Regions from separate parts of the Homo sapiens genome. Here region 1 is reported to be linked to region 2. Evidence: microRNA targets listed by miRTarBase, many of them from high-throughput screens and not tested one by one. Region 2 holds a microRNA gene; the other region holds the end of a gene's coding sequence.
What was found. The annotated mature microRNA hsa-miR-4753-5p reads CAAGGCCAAAGGAAGAGAACAG and lies in region 2 at 3,426-3,447, shown strand. An mRNA with a match to its seed (bases 2 to 7 or 8) in the 3' UTR can be bound and repressed. Matches are read on the target gene's strand: a 7mer-m8 pairs with bases 2 to 8, a 7mer-A1 pairs with bases 2 to 7 and ends in A, and an 8mer does both.

Region 1: the mRNA of LMNB1 is a reported target of hsa-miR-4753-5p. Seed matches in the 3' UTR shown: 8mer at 1,096-1,103.

Annotation. Positions count from the first base shown.
Region 1 is chr5:126,835,298-126,840,297 of GRCh38, forward strand. LMNB1 (lamin B1) reads left to right here. Exons shown (of 11, transcript NM_005573.4): 11 at 926-1,723. The coding sequence ends at 967. Among named protein-coding and RNA genes, the nearest start is that of LMNB1, 61 kb to the left of the region's middle. RefSeq lists enhancers at 3,559-4,303, 4,304-5,000.
Region 2 is chr1:235,188,357-235,193,532 of GRCh38, reverse strand. It overlaps MIR4753 (microRNA 4753), which reads left to right and starts at 3,417; the gene lies at 3,417-3,499. The region is part of intron 19 of ARID4B (AT-rich interaction domain 4B); the gene reads left to right.

The DNA of each region.
Region 1 (5,000 bases), not on the chromosome of region 2:
TCGCCTTTTGAATTGATTAGAAATATTTTGGTGACCTTCAAAAAACCAGTTTTAGTTCAATCAGTGGTGAGTCACAAGTCATATTGTGAGGTTATATGAAATTAATGAGTGATAAAGAAATGGGTAGAGGAGCCATGTTGACTTCACCTTGGAGGACAAATCCACTGCAGATGGCTTGGGATGTGTAAGTTCAGGATCTAGCAAGCTGTAGTCTCCGATGTGGTTGTTAAAAGCTGATCCACTGATCTCCTATTTCCTAAGTTATCAAAAGAGGTTATTGAACAATGGTTTTCAAATTGAGCTGCACATTAGAATTACTTTAAAATTATATATAGATAGCTACCCTTTCCCAGTAAAATGAGAAATTCTTATTTGATTGATCAAGGGACCTAGATCAGAATTTGTTTTAAACTCCTCAGGATCTGAATGTGTAGCCAGAGTTGACAATTACTGTTCTGGAATTTGTTGGGGGGTATTCTAGAAAGAAGTCCATAAAAGAAGGTTAGAGGCCAGATACGGTGGCTCACGCCTGTAATCCCAGCACTTTGGGAGGCCAAGGGCAGGTGGATCACTTGAGGCCAGGAGTTCAAGACCAGCCTGGCTAACGTGGTGGTGATGCACACCTGTAGTCGCAGCTGCTCGGGAGGCTGAGGCATGAGAATCGCTTGAACCCAGGAGGTAGAGGTTGCAGTGAGCCAAGATTGCACCACTGCACTCCAGCCTGGGCAACAGAGTGAGACTCTATCTCAAACAAACAAAGAAAAAGAAAAAAAGAAAAGGTTAGAAAAGATGAGAGATGATAAAGGGTCCATTTGAGGTTAGGTAATATGGTTTGGTATCCCTGTAGTTAAAAGTTTTTGTCTTATTTTAGAATACTGTGATCTATTTCTTTAGTATTAATTTTTCCTTCTGTTTTCCTCATCAGGGAACCCCAAGAGCATCCAATAGAAGCTGTGCAATTATGTAAAATTTTCAACTGTCTTCCTCAAAATAAAGAAGTATGGTAATCTTTACCTGTATACAGTGCAGAGCCTTCTCAGAAGCACAGAATATTTTTATATTTCCTTTATGTGAATTTTTAAGCTGCAAATCTGATGGCCTTAATTTCCTTTTTGACACTGAAAGTTTTGTAAAAGAAATCATGTCCATACACTTTGTTGCAAGATGTGAATTATTGACACTGAACTTAATAACTGTGTACTGTTCGGAAGGGGTTCCTCAAATTTTTTGACTTTTTTTGTATGTGTGTTTTTTCTTTTTTTTTAAGTTCTTATGAGGAGGGGAGGGTAAATAAACCACTGTGCGTCTTGGTGTAATTTGAAGATTGCCCCATCTAGACTAGCAATCTCTTCATTATTCTCTGCTATATATAAAACGGTGCTGTGAGGGAGGGGAAAAGCATTTTTCAATATATTGAACTTTTGTACTGAATTTTTTTGTAATAAGCAATCAAGGTTATAATTTTTTTTAAAATAGAAATTTTGTAAGAAGGCAATATTAACCTAATCACCATGTAAGCACTCTGGATGATGGATTCCACAAAACTTGGTTTTATGGTTACTTCTTCTCTTAGATTCTTAATTCATGAGGAGGGTGGGGGAGGGAGGTGGAGGGAGGGAAGGGTTTCTCTATTAAAATGCATTCGTTGTGTTTTTTAAGATAGTGTAACTTGCTTAAATTTCTTATGTGACATTAACAAATAAAAAAGCTCTTTTAATATTGATATACTGTCCTTTTTAACGCTTTAAAAACAGATTTTGAGGGGAGAAAAGTATTGTTTCAGTTTTGCTTTTGATAAAAATATAATTTGACTTCTTTGAACTGGATTTTTCTTTAAGGCTTTGCCAGTTGTGGAAGATAAGCTATTTTGGGGGTCTTTCAGTATTTAATTGTCATTAATAACAACAATAATAAAAGCAATAATAATAACTAATGTTTTTGAGCCAGATATCATGCTCAATGCTTCATTACATTTTTTAGCTTATTAACAATAAGGCCTTTTAAAATTTCTTCAGGAAAACCAAATAGGAACAGTAGAAAACATTGAGGAAGACATTCCTTTTTTTTTTTTTTTTTTTTTAAAGACAGAATCTCACTCTGTTGCCCAGGCTGTAGTGCAATGGCACGGTCTTAGCTCACTGCAGCCTTGACCTCTCCTGGGCTCTGCCTCCCAAGTAGCTGGGACTACAGGCACACACCACCATGTCCGGCTAATGTTTTTGTATTCGTAGAGAGCATTTTGTCATGTTTCCCATGCTGGACATTCCTAGTAAAAGAAAAAATGGGAAGAATATTTTAGAATGTAATTCTACTGTCTTTTAAAATAGGAAGGGCCGAGAAATTGATTAAAAGCCACCTTTTAGAAAAATAACATGAATGCTATGAAATACGAATGTGCTGTGTGTGGGGTAGCTTTATTATGTATGGTGCTAATTATGGTGTCAATTCGTGTGGATTTGGGGAGGTTTTGTCTTGATTGCTTTAGTTAAGTGAGTTCATCTTATAGGAAGTGCAATATCTGAACTCTTCCTAGAATGGACAGATAATATTTCAGAAGCTAACCCTAGTCAGTGTTTGTTTTTCTCTTAAAATATTCCTGCAGTAAGCTGCACAAAGACTACCAGCTTTCACTTGAAAATAACTCACAAAGCCCCAGAATTACTGTGTTCCGCAGATTTACTGCATACTTTGGTGCCGTCGCAGACACAAGATAAATGCTGGGTTAGAAATTCTGTCTGGTAAAGCAGATAAAATGATAACTTCTCAACGCAGATTTATCTTCAGAGTGGGAATGGCATTACAGTACACAGCCAAACTCAGCTGTGAAACATTTTGCCACAAGATGGGGTTCTTGTCATCAAAATACATTCTAGGTGCTTTTATTGCTGGATAAATTAGGTTATAAAAGCCAACACTTGAATTAATTTGGGCATTAAGAAAAATTGGCAGTTGTAACATAGTAGAATAGTGTGTATGCTGGGGAAATTGAGAGTACAAATGCAGGGCTCAACATAAACAGTTTGTTGCCCCTGGATGTGTGGCAGTAGTAGATTCCTGAGTCTGTTTAGACTGACAAACTTTGGACTAAATTGAGGTTTTCTGAAATTGAGCTGCACCTAAACCCATTCCCGCAGAATGTGAGTGAGCTAGAGGGCACGCTGCCATCCTGTGTATTAAAATCAGCATCTCCGCATGAAATTGATGTTAGGCATACAGCATATATATACATTTTTGGATTATTTATTTGATAACAAGCATGATTCACATTTTCCCCTTGTTTTGTCTTCAGTGTTTGTTTTCACCTCTGTTTAGGTATGGATTTATTTTATTATTTTATTTTATTTTATTTATTTTTTTGAGACAGAGTCTCGCTGTTGTTGCCCAGGCTGGAGTGCAATGGTGCAATCTCCGCTCACTGCAACCTCTGTCTCCCAGGTTCAAGCGATTCTCCTGCCTCAGCCTCCTGAGTAGTTGGGATTACAGGTGCACACCACCACGCCTAGATATGGATTTATTTTTATTCCTCTTGTTCAGGTCTTATCTCTGTGTTCTTCATTAAGAAAATTTTGGATGTTCTTATTTTGTTGAGTATTATCTCATCCCCACTGTCTGTTCTTTCCTTCTGGGGTTTCTTTTATACCTGTGTTGAACCTGTCCTGTTTCATGTATTTTAGGTTTCTCCACACTATATTCTCAGTTAACTCCTTCGTATTTATCTCACTGATTCTGTTCTCAGCCCTGTCTTATCTGTTTATTCCAGCCATTGAACTTTTTAGGCTTCATTTTTTTGTTTCTGAAGTTGTCTTTGATTCTTTCTCAAATTTATCTTTTTCATAATTTTTTATTATAGTTTTTATTCTTTTTATGAATCATTTTAACCATATTTTATAGTCTCAATTCTATTTTTTTGAGTTTTGGAGAATGCTAATTTTTCTGTTAGCTGTGTCTGTTGACTTTCCTAATGGTAGTTGGCTTTCTCATGGAGTTTTTAGGATTGTGAACACATCTCCAGCAAGGGCTATGTTGTGAGTGATCCGTTTCATGCGTGTCTGTGTGAAGAGACCACCAAACAGGATTTGTGTGAGCAACACGGCTGTTTATTTCACCTGGGTGCAGGCGGGCTGAGTCCGAAAAGAGAGTCAGCGAAGGGAGATAAGGGAGGGGCCGTTTTATAGGATTTGGGTAGGTAAAGGAAAATTACAGTCAAAGGGGGTTTGTTCTCTGGCGGGCAGGAGTGGGGGGTCACAAGGTGCTCAGTGGGGGTGCTTTTTGAGCTAGGAAAAGGACTTTCACAAGGTAATCTCATCACTTAAGGCAAGGGCCGGCCATTTACACTTCTTTTGTGGTGGAATGTCATCAGTTAAGGTGGGGCAGGGCATATTCACTTCTTTTGTGATTCTTTAGTTACTTCAGGCCATCTGGGTGTATAGGTGCAGATCACAGGGGATGCGATGGCTTGGCTTGGGCTCAGAGGCCTGACATTCCTGCCTTCTTATATTAATAAGAAAAATAAAACAAAATAGTGTTGAAGTGTTGGGGCGGCAAAAATTTTTGGGGGTGGTATGGAGAGAGAGAATGGGCGATGTTTCTCAGGGCTGCTTCAAGCGGGATTAGGGGTGGCGTGGGAACCTAGAGTGGGAGAGATTAAGCTGAAGGGAGGTCTTGTGGTAAGGGGTGATATTGTGGGGGTGTTAGAAGAAACACTTGTCGTATAGAATGATTGGTGATGGCCTGGATACGGTTTTGGGTGAATTGAGAAACGAAATGGAATAACAGAAGGAGAAAAACAGGTATAAAAGGTCTAAGAATTGGGATGACTCAGGATATCTGATTAGAGAGTGCCTAAGGAGATTCAGCATAGTCCTGCCAGCAAAGATTATTTATTTACTTCAAGAGTTAAGAGTGGCAGTTTGGGGATAGCACCAGGAGATATCAGCTGTGATGGCTTGGAGAAACAGTGTAAACCGGCAGTGTAAACAAGAGCAGGGCATGTATGAGTA
Region 2 (5,176 bases):
GCCATCCTTTCTGTTGCAATGTAATGCATAGTTTGTGTTATACAACATCAGACCATAAAAGTATACTGACAAGTTGTTGTAAAGAACACCAAACTTTGTTTGTCCTGATTATGACTATTATGATCTCTGTTTCTTTGAGACAGGGTCTCACTCTGTAGCCTAGGTTGGAGTACAGTGGTGCAATCTCAGCTCACTTCAGCCTCAACCTCCCAGACTCTAAAGATCCTCACACCTCAGCCTCCCAAGGAGCTGGAGCTGCAGGCGCATGCCACCATGCCCGGCTAATATTTATATTGTTTCTAGAGACGGGGTTTTGCCCTGTTGACCAGGCTCGTCTCGAGCTCCTAGGCTCAAGCAATTGGCCTGTCTTAGCCTCCCGAGTGCTAGGATTACAGGCAGGAGCCACTGCACCTGGACTGACTGCTTTTTTTTTTTTTTTGAGACGGAGTCTCGCTCTGTCACCCAGGCTGGAGTGCAGTGGCGCAATCTCAGCTCACTTGCAAGCTCCACCTCCCGGGTTCACACTGTTCTCCTGTCTCAGCTTCCTGAGTAGCTGGGACTACAGGCGCCCGCCACTGCGCCTGGCTAATTTTCTGTATTTTTAGTACAGATGGGGTTTCACCATGGTCTGGATCTCCTGACCTTATGATCCGCCCACCTTGGCCTCCCAAAGTGCTGGGATTACAGGCGTGAGCCACCGCGCCTGGCCTGACATGACCTCTTTTATGATGGGATTATTGCTTAGTATTTAAGGCAAAATGAAGTATAGGTAATAAAAGCAATGAGGATTGGAGCAGAGATTTATTAAATCTGACTGGCAGGGAAGGGGACATATCTATGAGATAAAAGAATGGATCTCCATAAAAATATCTTATCATTTCTCATAACTTAAAAGAGGTTTCATTTTTACTTATTTTGAATGTTAATAGAAGCTAGTTTTTGTTTCTTATTGTAGATGTGTGTTTATATTAACTCATTATTTTATAAACCAAATGCTGTACTATATTTTTATTTACTCACCACTGTACTAATTAGGGCAATATTTTTAAATTGATTTTTAAAAAATTTTCCCATGTATCCTACATGCAAATAGTGCATGGAAAATACATGTATAGTTTAAAGAACAGTAATAATATGGATACTAGTATGTCTCCACAGTAGCAATCAAATACTATTTACTTAAAACATGTAGTATGTCTCCTCCCAGAAGTAATTATAGTCTGGACTTTTGTGTAATCCTTGCTTTACTTTTCTTCAGAATTGAATTATCTATATTTATATTCCTAAGTAATTTTTATTTTACTTCGTAGTATGTCTCCTCCCAGAAGTAATTATAGTCTGGACTTTTGTGTAATCCTTGCTTTACTTTTCTTCAGAATTGAATTATCTATATTTATATTCCTAAGTAATTTTTATTTTACTTCATTTTTTTAGGGTGTTTTTTTGTTTTGTTTTTGTTTTTGAGGCAGAGTCTCGCTCTGTCACCCAGGCTGGAGTGCAGTGGTGCTATCACGACTCAAGTGACCTCCTGGGCTCAAGCGACCTTTCCATCTCAGCCTCCTAAGTAGCTGGAACTACAGGTGTGTGCCACCATGCCAGGCTATTTTTTGTAGTTTTTGTAGAGATGGGGTTTCACCCTGTTGCCCAGGCTTGTCTCAAACTCCTGGACTCAAGCAATCCAATCCATCTGCCTCAGCCTTCCAAAGTGTTAGGATTATAGGCATGAGCCACTGCACCCAGCCTGTTTTTTAGTTTTTTAAAAATTGAGTAACAAGCATAAGCCTAGTTTTATAAGAAGGCTCAGATGAAGGCTTTCTGAGAATGTTACCTGAATAGAGATTCTAAGTCATACTCTGATTTCAGATTTAGCTTCTCTGAGAGTTTACAAAAGCCCCTCTAGAGAATTCAGTTGGACAGGTCATAAGCCAGTTCTGATAAACCTAGGGGTCCACTACAGTTAGAATATCTGACACATTTGGCTGGGCATAGTAGCTCACTCCTGTAATCCCAGCACTTTTGGAGGCCAAGGCGGGCAGATTACCTGAGGTCAGGAGTTTGAGACCAGCCTGGCCAACATGGTGAAACCCTGTCTCTACTAAAAAAAAAAATACAAAAACTTTGCCGGGTGTGGTGGTGGGTGCCTGTAATCCCAGCTACTTGGGAGGCTGAGGCAGGAGAATCGCTTGAACCCAGGAGGCAGAGGTTGCAGTGAGTCAAGATCACACCATTGCACTCTAGCCTGGGTAGCAACAGCGAAACTCCATCTTAAAAAAAATAAAATAAAAAGAATATGTGACACATTCGCAGTGGATGTTATGTGGGAGTGTGCTCAGTCGTAGTAGCAGACTACTCTATATATATTCTCATTCTAGGCTTATGGTGATTTACCCCTATTTTTCACAAGTAGGTCAGAATGTTTCTGCTGGATAAAATGATGTCATTAGCTGATCTAGGTAGTGGCACATAAGACATGGAAGGGAGAGCTGGAATTTCATTGACACATAGTTGAAACAAGATAAATACAGATTTTAAAATCCAGTCTGGGTCACTCAGGCATTCAAAGACTACAGAGAGGCGGTAGCAGGTAGCTTAATGATAATAGCCTGCAGTATGACTTTCTTTGGAAATAACACTGCTGTAGTCTGGACTGGTTTCCCTCTATATCTGTTGCACAGCTATTTTCCTAGGGAGATCCCATTCTAGGGATCTCCTTTAATGTAGTTCTTGGATTTCTTTGTTTTTGGCATCTCAGGTTCCTCCCCACCCCCATACTTTCATTTTGGTGGAGCACATTCTCTAGTAGCTTCTAAAGAACAAGTGCATGAGATGGAATTTTTAGAGATTGGCTGCATTTAAATATCTGTATTTATTTTTGCAAATATCTTTATTCTATTCATAGTTTGGCTGGATTGGAAGTTTTTCCTTCAGTATTTTATTGGCAGTGTTGAATTGTTTTTTTGCTTCCAGTATTGCTTTTGTGAAGTCCAGAGCTCTTCCAATTCCTGATTCTTTGTATGTGACTTGTTTTATTCTTTATTTTTTGCTTTTCTGTCTCTGGAATCTTTTTTTTTTCTTTTCTTTTTTTGAGATGGAATCTCACTCTGTTGGCCAAGCTGGAGTGCAGTGGCACAATTTTGGCTTACTGCAGCCTCTGCCTCCTGGGTTCAAGTGTTTCTCCTGCCTCAGCCTCCCGAGTAGGTGGGATTGCAGGGGCCTGCCACCACGCCTGGCTAGTTTTTCTATTTTTAGTAGAGATGGGGTTTTGCCATTTTGGCCAGGCTGGTCTCGAACTGCTGACCTCAAGTGATCCACTCACCTCAGCCTCCCAAAGTGCTGGGATTACTGGCATGAGCCACCATGCCCTGCTAGGAATCTTGAATCTTTGTTTTTCGTATCCAGAAATTTAACTCTGAAATATATCTACACAAGGCCAAAGGAAGAGAACAGATATATCCACAGTACACTTGGCTGTTCTCTTTCTTTAGCCTTGTGTAGATATATTTTCATCCCCTGTGATGCCTACTTGCTAGACTCTTTCATTCTAGCAACTTCTGTCTTTCTGTTCTAGGCAGTTTTTTTGAATGATTTTCTTGATGATTTCCTCTCCTGCATTTTACTGTTCTCTCCTTTTTAATTTTTGTTCATTGTTACTATTTTTGAGATGAGGTGTTACTATATTGCCCAGGCTGGTCTCAAACTTCTGAGCTCAAGCGATTTTCCTGTCTCAGCCTCCCAAAGTGCTAGGATTACAGGCATGAGCTACTGTCCCAGCCCTGCCAAATTTTTTTTTTTCTTTAATTGAGACTGTGTTTCACTATGTTCAGCCCAGGCTGTTCTCACACTTCTGGGCTCAAGCAGTCCTCCTGCCTCAGCCTCCCAAGTAGTTGGGTAGCTGGGGTATAGGTGCATGACACTGCACTTGGCTGTTATCTTTCTTTGGCCAGCCATTATTTGATATTATACCTTCTGTAATATACTCTAATATGCTCACCTTTTAATTTCTTGCTTTTTATTAATTTTTTTGTCTTTTTATTTCTTTGAAATTTTATCTGCTTTGTCTTTTAATCCTTTTGTTGACTTTTTGCTGTAATGTTTAAGTTTTCAATGATTTTTTTTTTTTTTTTTTTTTTTTTGAGACTGAGTCTCACTCTGTTGCCTAGGCTGGAGTGCAGTGGCATGATCTCGGCTCACTGCAATCTCTGCCCTCCAAGTTCAAGCGATTCTCCTGCCTCAGCCTCCCGAGTAGCTGGTATTACAGGCGCCTGCCACCGCACCCAGCTAATTTTTTGTATTTTTAGTAGAGATGGGGTTTCACCATCTTGGCCAGGCTGGTCTTGAACTCCTGACCTTGTGATCCACCTGCCTCAGCCTCCCACAGTGCTGGGATTATAGGCGTGAGCCACTGCGCCCAGCCTTTCAATGAATATTTTTAAATTAAACTAGTTTAATTTTTCAAGAGCTCTGTTTTCTGTGTGTTTTGTACCACTCTGTTCTTATAGATGGATGCAATACCTTACCTTTCGGATTTTGATCTTTCAAAGGATTTTATAATTTTTGGTTTTTTCAGTTACCTCTAATTTGCTTTTTTCTGTGTTGTTGTTTTGAGCTCTTCCCTATTAAGAATTTTTTTTCCTGGCTGTCTTATGATTATGAAGGAAAGACTAAACTGATTTGGAAATTGCAAGCATATGGTTGGCACTTGTTGACCTTGAGTTTCACTATCGGGTGATCTGGTTGGCCATGTCCTAGGGAATTCATAATATGAAGTCTTTAGGTCTTTTTCTCTTAGACTAGTTGGCTTCCAGAGAAAAGAGTTCCAATCTCTTGACTGGAGGGTGGTAAGAGAATGGTTTCCAGTGTTCTAGGATCTAGTTGAAGAACAGAGAGTGGGGTGGAGGATTCTTAGTGGTTAGATATGTTCATGAATCCCCCTAATTTCAGCATCGCATCTGTACCTGTGCCTTCAACAGTTGTTAGCATCTCCCAGGCTAGGAGCCCTCTCCTACTGTCTTCAGAGAATAAAGCTCTAGAAGGGCAGTCACCTTCCAACCTGAAGTGAGGTGGGGATCTAGGCATCTAAGTAATTTTTAGTCTTCACCCAGTGCTCCTTGTATGAGGCTCCCCACTGCCCTTTTTAATTTTCATAGGCACTAGGGCAGTCAGTAATTATTGAGGT